Linked DNA regions of Homo sapiens. The protein of the gene in region 1 interacts with the protein of each later gene in a biochemical or structural test. Each region holds a gene or a part of one and is shown in the gene's direction. Other genes may lie near its edges.

Region 1 (3,909 bases):
GATCTCCACTCACTGCAACCTCCACCTCCTGGGCTCAAGCGATTTTCCCACCTCAGCCTCCCCAGTAGCTGGGATTACAGGCTCAAGCCACTGCCCCCCGCTAATTTTTGTATCTTTTTGGGTAGAGATGGGTTTTTGCCATGTTGCCCAGGCTGGTCTTGAACTCCTGGGCTCAAGCCATGTGCCCGCCTTGGCCTCCCAAAGTGCTAGGATTACTGGCGTGAGCCACCTTACCTGGTGGGGCACAGGATTTTAAATTAAATTTTTTTTTTTTTAATTTTTAGAGACAGAGTCTTGCTCTGTCGCCCAGGCTGGAGTGCAGTGGCATGATCTTGGCTCACTACAATCTCTGCCTCTAGAGTTCCGGCGATTCTTGTGCCTCAGCCTCTCTAGTAGTTGGGATTACAGGCGTGCACCACCACACCCAGTTAATTTTTTCTATTTTTAGTACAGACAGGGTTTTGCTATGTTAGCCAGGCTGGTCTTGAACTCCTGGCCTCAAGTGATCTGCCTGCTTTGGCCTCCCAAAGTGCTGGGATCACAGGCGTGAGCCACTGCGCCTGGCCTAAATTTTTCGTCTTTAAGACGGGGTCTCTCTCTCTCTGTCATCCAGGCTGGAATGCAGTGGCACAATCATAGCTCACTGCAGCCTTGAACTCCTGGGCTCAAGTGAGCCTCCAGCCTCAACTTTCTAAGTAGCTGGGACTACAGGCTGATGCGACCATGCCCGACTTGGCACAGGATTTAAATATGGCCCTGGACAAGTCACTGGCCTTCTCTGGCCTTCCCAGGTAAGCTTGGACTTTCTGGGATGCTTCAAGTTCAAATCATCAGTGGTACAACTGTTGAACAATATGAGGAACGCTGCGGGTTACTGGGCCTGTGTGGACCCGTTTTGGATTCTAAGCTGGGTCCTGGGCAGAAGTTGGAGGCTGGGGCAGCTGCAAGCAGGACAGGCAGGTGGCCAGAGGGCCCAGCAGCTTCAGCACTGAGGACTGGACTGGGTCGCCACGCCCAAAGGAAGGATAATTACTCACCTCCCACTCAAGAAGCAGGCGGCAGAACTGTTTTGGAGAGCATGGCTTGGGGCCTGGGACCTATGTTCATGCGGTCCAGACGGAGATCCATGAGAGTTAAGACTCTTTCTAGATATCAGGTAGCACTTCTGATTACAAAACTTTTGCACATGGTCTCCTCTCTGCTTTACAACAGCTCAGGAAAGTAGGCCCAAACATCCACTTTAATAGATGAGGGAGCTCAGAGGGGGTAACCAACCCCTCCAGGTCACACAGCCAGGGAGGGGGTTGAGCCAAGGTTCAAACCACTGCCTCGGTTGTTGCAGATACATCCCTGCAGACACCTTTATTGAAGAGGGACCCTGAAGGCTGAACGGCCAACACAGAAGAGGAGGCACTTGGGAGTAAGGGTGATTTATGGCCCTGGGAGGGCCCAGTGCAGGTAGGATGGGAGCTAAGGTAAGGCTGGGCCATGCCTAGCTGCAAGCAAATTTCCTTAAAAAACAAACAACAAAAAACATTACTTTTTCTAAACCTAAAGTTTGTGGTGGCATTCAAGTCCCATCATAGCCCATCTATCCAGACTCATCTGCCTGGGATCCCCGTCTTGGGACTAGTGGTCACTGGCCTGCTTCCTGGTCAATTAGCTTCCGGGACTAGGGGGAGGTGTGAGGAGCCTAGAGTGCAAAATTTAAGAAGCACTCAGTCTCAGGGGCGTGCAGGTGCAGGGTAGCGACGGCAGGACTCTAAGAGTGAGTCTCTTTCCTCCCCGTTTCCCCGTCCTACTTTCACTCTAAGCATTTAGTTCCCAGGGGACAGAGACGACTTCTTCATTAGAAGACCCCGGGGGGTCCCCAGCCCGGAAGGGCTCACAGTTGGAGCTCAAACATTTGCCACTGTTCAGGCTCATCTTTCTTTCCCCAGTGAAAAATGGTCTAGGTTGGGAAGGGCAGGTTCCTGTCTACTGCGTGATCCAACCGATTCTGGTTCGCCCAATGTCTGGACTTGTCCTTTGCCAAGAATAAGCAGATGAGATGGGCGGATGAACCCCAATGTCCCTGCAAGATTCAGGAAGTCCCAGCCAGAAAGTAAAGGACGTTTAGTTCCATGTATTGTTTTCTTTTTTACATGCGGGGCAACACACCTGGACAGTGTCGATGGCTTGCTCCAAGCCACACGGCCGCATAGGGACAGGGACTGGGCTACATAACAAGTTCTTCGACGCTGTGATCTAATCAAGGAAAACCTGGGACGCAGCTAATAGATGCGCATCGAGTGTATCGACGCTCTAAGTACGAGGGCTGGAACAGTGAGCAGGATCAGTCCATTGCTTTTGCCTACCTGCTGAGCGCTGATTGGTCCCCGTTTAGGAAACGGAAAAAGGGGCGTGCACGCGGGCGCGGCTGCGTGAGAGGCGCGCGGCGGCGCAGTGAACAGTCTCCTTCCACAAAACCATGGCGTCGCTCAAATGTAGCACCGTCGTCTGCGTGATCTGCTTGGAGAAGCCCAAATACCGCTGTCCAGCCTGCCGCGTGCCCTAGTGAGCGGGGAGGTCGCGGGGTCCAGGGGCGCGGGTGTCCGGCCATGGCGGGAGGGCGGGAGGCCGGGAGGCCGGGCGGGAGCGGGCGGGCTGCTGGAGGGGCCGGGGACCCTCGGGGCTGACGCGGCCTGTGGCCTCTGTTGTTACAGCTGCTCGGTAGTCTGCTTCCGGAAGCACAAAGGTGAGCCCCGTCCCCGCCAGCCCTCGTACCACTGCGCACGGGGCAGCCCCCACGTCCAGCCTCCGTCTTGGGGGCGTGGACCCTTGGGCTGCGCTTCCTTTCCCGCCTCGGGTCTCCGCGGGTTCTGCAGGAACCTTGCTTCCTCTGACTTGGTCCCTGGTGTCTCTGTGTGTCGGACAGTTCCCTCTGTTGTCCCTGCCTGTAATCGCTCTCAGGGTTTTGGTCAGTAGCCTTTCTTCTACCCCGCTTCTCCTTCTGCGTGTTACTCTTTTTTGCTTAGAAATAGTTTCCGATTGCTTTTCCCACCGAGGTCTACCCTAGCAGTTTCTTCCTCAGTATTCTGATGTAGCCCCTCACCATTTGGCTGAAACTGCGCTAACTTTAACAGTATTTTCACTCGTGTAAATAATGTCTTGTTAGAAACAAAGAGGTAAGTCCATGTACAATACAAGGAGACGTCCTTGATTTGTTAAGAGAAAAAAAGAACCAAGTAAGTTCTGTGTATGATGTGAACACACTTTTGTACAGTTAAAAAGAAGTGACCTGGCCGGGCGCGGTGGCTCACGCCTGTGGTCCCGGCACTTTGAGAGGCCAAGGCGGGTGGATCACCTGAGCCCAGGAGTTCGAGACCAGCCTGGCCAACATGGTGAAACTCCGTCTCTACTAAAAATACAAAAATTAGGCGGGCGAGGTGCGCGCCTGTAATCCCAGCTACTCAGGAGGCTGAGGCAGGAGAATCGCTTGAACCCGGGAGGCGGAGGTTGTAGTGAGCCGAAATCGCACCACTGCACTCCAGCCTGGGCTACAGAGCCAGACTCAGTCTGGAAAAAAAAAGAAAAAAAAAAGTTTGATGTAGGTGGGGCGCGGTGGGTCACGCCTGTAATCCCAGCACTTTGGGAGGCCGAGGCGGGCGGATCATTTGAGCTCAGGAGTTTGAGACCAGCCTGGGCAACATAGCGAAACCCCGTCTCTATAAACAAACAAAGCCAGGCGTGGTGGCCTGTGCCAGTGGTCCCAGCTACTCAGGAAGCAGAGGTGGGAAGATCGCTTGAGCCTGGGAGGAGGAGGTTGCAGTGAGCCAGGATCGTACCACTGCACTCCAGCCTGGGAGACAGCAAGACTGTCTCAAAAAAAAAAAAAAAAAAAGCTTGATGTAGATTCTTTCAGCTTAT
Region 2 (3,909 bases), on another chromosome or scaffold:
TCCATTTGTTGAGGCTGTTTATTCAGTAAGGTGACTGACAGCCTTTACTGAATGAAGCCATTGTTGGGATGAGGCAATCCACTGGATGAGGTAACCCATTGGGTGAAGATGTTCTTGGGTGAGAATTCCATTAGTTGACATTGTCCATTAAGTAAAAGTGGTCATTGAAGTAAGGCTGCACAGTTGGGTAAGGCTATCCATTAGACAATTAGATGAGACTACCCATTGGGTCAGGATGTCTGCTGGGCTAGACCATCCTCTGAAACCTCCAAAGTATAAACTTGTCATTGGGCAAAGCTCTTCAAAGGATAAGATTATCAATGGGATGAAGTGATCCACTGAGATAAGATGATATTTTACTGACATTGTTCTCAGGGAAAGTTTTCCATTGAACAAAGATGGCCAATTGGGTCAAATTTGCTCTCCAAACCTGCCATGAGAGTGAGGCCAATTAGTTTCTATTACTCATCTCCTAAATATCCAAGAAATGGTATTTTTTGAGCCAGCTGGTCCGGGGTTTCATCAACTGCTGCTCCTTCTCCCAGGAAAGACTATCCCTGTCACCCATCCCATTGCCGCTGGGGACAGCCAGGCCTGGGCCTTGGTTTGGGAGAAGCAGTCCAAGTCTGCATATCAAATAAATGATGGAGGAGATGGGTGGTAGGACCTTCCAGACCTCATAAAACTTAGGCTTTATGATCTGGGACTCACAGAAGGTTGAGCAATAAAAGACCTTAGGGATTATCTGGTTTAATTAATTCTCTCATTTTATAGAGGAAGAAATTAAGTCAAGGTGGGGCAGGGTGGGAGGGGAGAACTTTCCCGGGCCTCTTCATTTACTCCCACAAAGGCTGGAATTTTGAGCAGCCCCTGTCTGTCTGTTTGTCCTTCCAGCCACCCCTGAGACCCCACAGCCCTCACCGCCAGGTGGCTCAGGGTCTGAGCCCTATAAGCTCCTGCCGGGAGCCGTCGCCACAATCGTCAAGCCCCTCTCTGCCATCCCCCAGCCGACCATCACCAAGCAGGAAGTTATCTAGCAAGCCGCTGGGGCTTGGGGGCTCCACTGGCTCCCCCCAGCCCCCTAAGAGAGCACCTGGTGATCACGTGGTCACGGCAAAGGAAGACGTGATGCCAGGACCAGTCCCAGAGCAGGAATGGGAAGGATGAAGGGCCCGAGAACATGGCCTAAGGGCCACATCCCACTGCCACCCTTGACGCCCTGCTCTGGATAACAAGACTTTGACTTGGGGAGACCTCTACTGCCTTGGACAACTTTTCTCATGTTGAAGCCACTGCCTTCACCTTCACCTTCATCCATGTCCAACCCCCGACTTCATCCCAAAGGACAGCCGCCTGGAGATGACTTGAGGCCTTACTTAAACCCAGCTCCCTTCTTCCCTAGCCTGGTGCTTCTCCTCTCCTAGCCCCTGTCATGGTGTCCAGACAGAGCCCTGTGAGGCTGGGTCCAATTGTGGCACTTGGGGCACCTTGCTCCTCCTTCTGCTGCTGCCCCCACCTCTGCTGCCTCCCTCTGCTGTCACCTTGCTCAGCCATCCCGTCTTCTCCAACACCACCTCTCCAGAGGCCAAGGAGGCCTTGGAAACGATTCCCCCAGTCATTCTGGGAACATGTTGTAAGCACTGACTGGGACCAGGCACCAGGCAGGGTCTAGAAGGCTGTGGTGAGGGAAGACGCCTTTCTCCTCCAACCCAACCTCATCCTCCTTCTTCAGGGACTTGGGTGGGTACTTGGGTGAGGATCCCTGAAGGCCTTCAACCCGAGAAAACAAACCCAGGTTGGCGACTGCAACAGGAACTTGGAGTGGAGAGGAAAAGCATCAGAAAGAGGCAGACCATCCACCAGGCCTTTGAGAAAGGGTAGAATTCTGGCTGGTAGAGCAGGTGAGATGGGACATTCCAAAGAACAGCCTGAGCCAAGGCCTAGTGGTAGTAAGAATCTAGCAAGAATTGAGGAAGAATGGTGTGGGAGAGGGATGATGAAGAGAGAGAGGGCCTGCTGGAGAGCATAGGGTCTGGAACACCAGGCTGAGGTCCTGATCAGCTTCAAGGAGTATGCAGGGAGCTGGGCTTCCAGAAAATGAACACAGCAGTTCTGCAGAGGACGGGAGGCTGGAAGCTGGGAGGTCAGGTGGGGTGGATGATATAATGCGGGTGAGAGTAATGAGGCTTGGGGCTGGAGAGGACAAGATGGGTAAACCCTCACATCAGAGTGACATCCAGGAGGAATAAGCTCCCAGGGCCTGTCTCAAGCTCTTCCTTACTCCCAGGCACTGTCTTAAGGCATCTGACATGCATCATCTCATTTAATCCTCCCTTCCTCCCTATTAACCTAGAGATTGTTTTTGTTTTTTATTCTCCTCCTCCCTCCCCGCCCTCACCCGCCCCACTCCCTCCTAACCTAGAGATTGTTACAGAAGCTGAAATTGCGTTCTAAGAGGTGAAGTGATTTTTTTTCTGAAACTCACACAACTAGGAAGTGGCTGAGTCAGGACTTGAACCCAGGTCTCCCTGGATCAGAACAGGAGCTCTTAACTACAGTGGCTGAATAGCTTCTCCAAAGGCTCCCTGTGTTCTCACCGTGATCAAGTTGAGGGGCTTCCGGCTCCCTTCTACAGCCTCAGAAACCAGACTCGTTCTTCTGGGAACCCTGCCCACTCCCAGGACCAAGATTGGCCTGAGGCTGCACTAAAATTCACTTAGGGTCGAGCATCCTGTTTGCTGATAAATATTAAGGAGAATTCATGACTCTTGACAGCTTTTCTCTCTTCACTCCCCAAGTCAAGGGGAGGGGTGGCAGGGGTCTGTTTCCTGGAAGTCAGGCTCATCTGGCCTGTTGGCATGGGGGTGGGACAGTGTGCACAGTGTGGGGGCAGGGGAGGGCTAAGCAGGCCTGGGTTTGAGGGCTGCTCCGGAGACCGTCACTCCAGGTGCATTCTGGAAGCATTAGACCCCAGGATGGAGCGACCAGCATGTCATCCATGTGGAATCTTGGTGGCTTTGAGGACATTCTGGAAAATGCCACTGACCAGTGTGAACAAAAGGGATGTGTTATGGGGCTGGAGGTGTGATTAGGTAGGAGGGAAACTGTTGGACCGACTCCTGCCCCCTGCTCAACACTGACCCCTCTGAGTGGTTGGAGGCAGTGCCCCAGTGCCCAGAAATCCCACCATTAGTGATTGTTTTTTATGAGAAAGAGGCGTGGAGAAGTATTGGGGCAATGTGTCAGGGAGGAATCACCACATCCCTACGGCAGTCCCAGCCAAGCCCCCAATCCCAGCGGAGACTGTGCCCTGCTCAGAGCTCCCAAGCCTTCCCCCACCACCTCACTCAAGTGCCCCTGAAATCCCTGCCAGACGGCTCAGCCTGGTCTGCGGTAAGGCAGGGAGGCTGGAACCATTTCTGGGCATTGTGGTCATTCCCACTGTGTTCCTCCACCTCCTCCCTCCAGCGTTGCTCAGACCTCTGTCTTGGGAGAAAGGTTGAGATAAGAATGTCCCATGGAGTGCCGTGGGCAACAGTGGCCCTTCATGGGAACAATCTGTTGGAGCAGGGGGTCAGTTCTCTGCTGGGAATCTACCCCTTTCTGGAGGAGAAACCCATTCCACCTTAATAACTTTATTGTAATGTGAGAAACACAAAACAAAGTTTACTTTTTTGACTCTAAGCTGACATGATATTAGAAAATCTCTCGCTCTCTTTTTTTTTTTTTTTTTTTTTTTTGGCTACTTGAGTTGTGGTCCTAAAACATAAAATCTGATGGACAAACAGAGGGTTGCTGGGGGGACAAGCGTGGGCACAATTTCCCCACCAAGACACCCTGATCTTCAGGCGGGTCTCAGGAGCTTCTAAAAATCCGCATGGCTCTCCTGAGAGTGGACAGAGGAGAGGA

The links.
Region 2: the proteins of ZNHIT3 (region 1) and HNF4A form a complex in vitro, tested with the Homo sapiens proteins (one study listed by BioGRID).

What each region holds. Positions count from the first base shown.
Region 1 is NC_000017.11:36,484,230-36,488,138, forward strand, and holds the start of ZNHIT3 (zinc finger HIT domain-containing protein 3), read left to right. Parts: upstream 1-2,451; 5' UTR 2,452-2,470; coding exon 2,471-2,556; intron 2,557-2,705; coding exon 2,706-2,737; intron 2,738-3,909.
Region 2 is NC_000020.11:44,428,629-44,432,537, forward strand, and holds part of HNF4A (hepatocyte nuclear factor 4-alpha), read left to right. Parts: intron 1-894; coding exon 895-1,037; 3' UTR 1,038-3,909. UniProt on the Homo sapiens protein: Transcriptional regulator which controls the expression of hepatic genes during the transition of endodermal cells to hepatic progenitor cells, facilitating the recruitment of RNA pol II to the promoters of target genes. Activates the transcription of CYP2C38.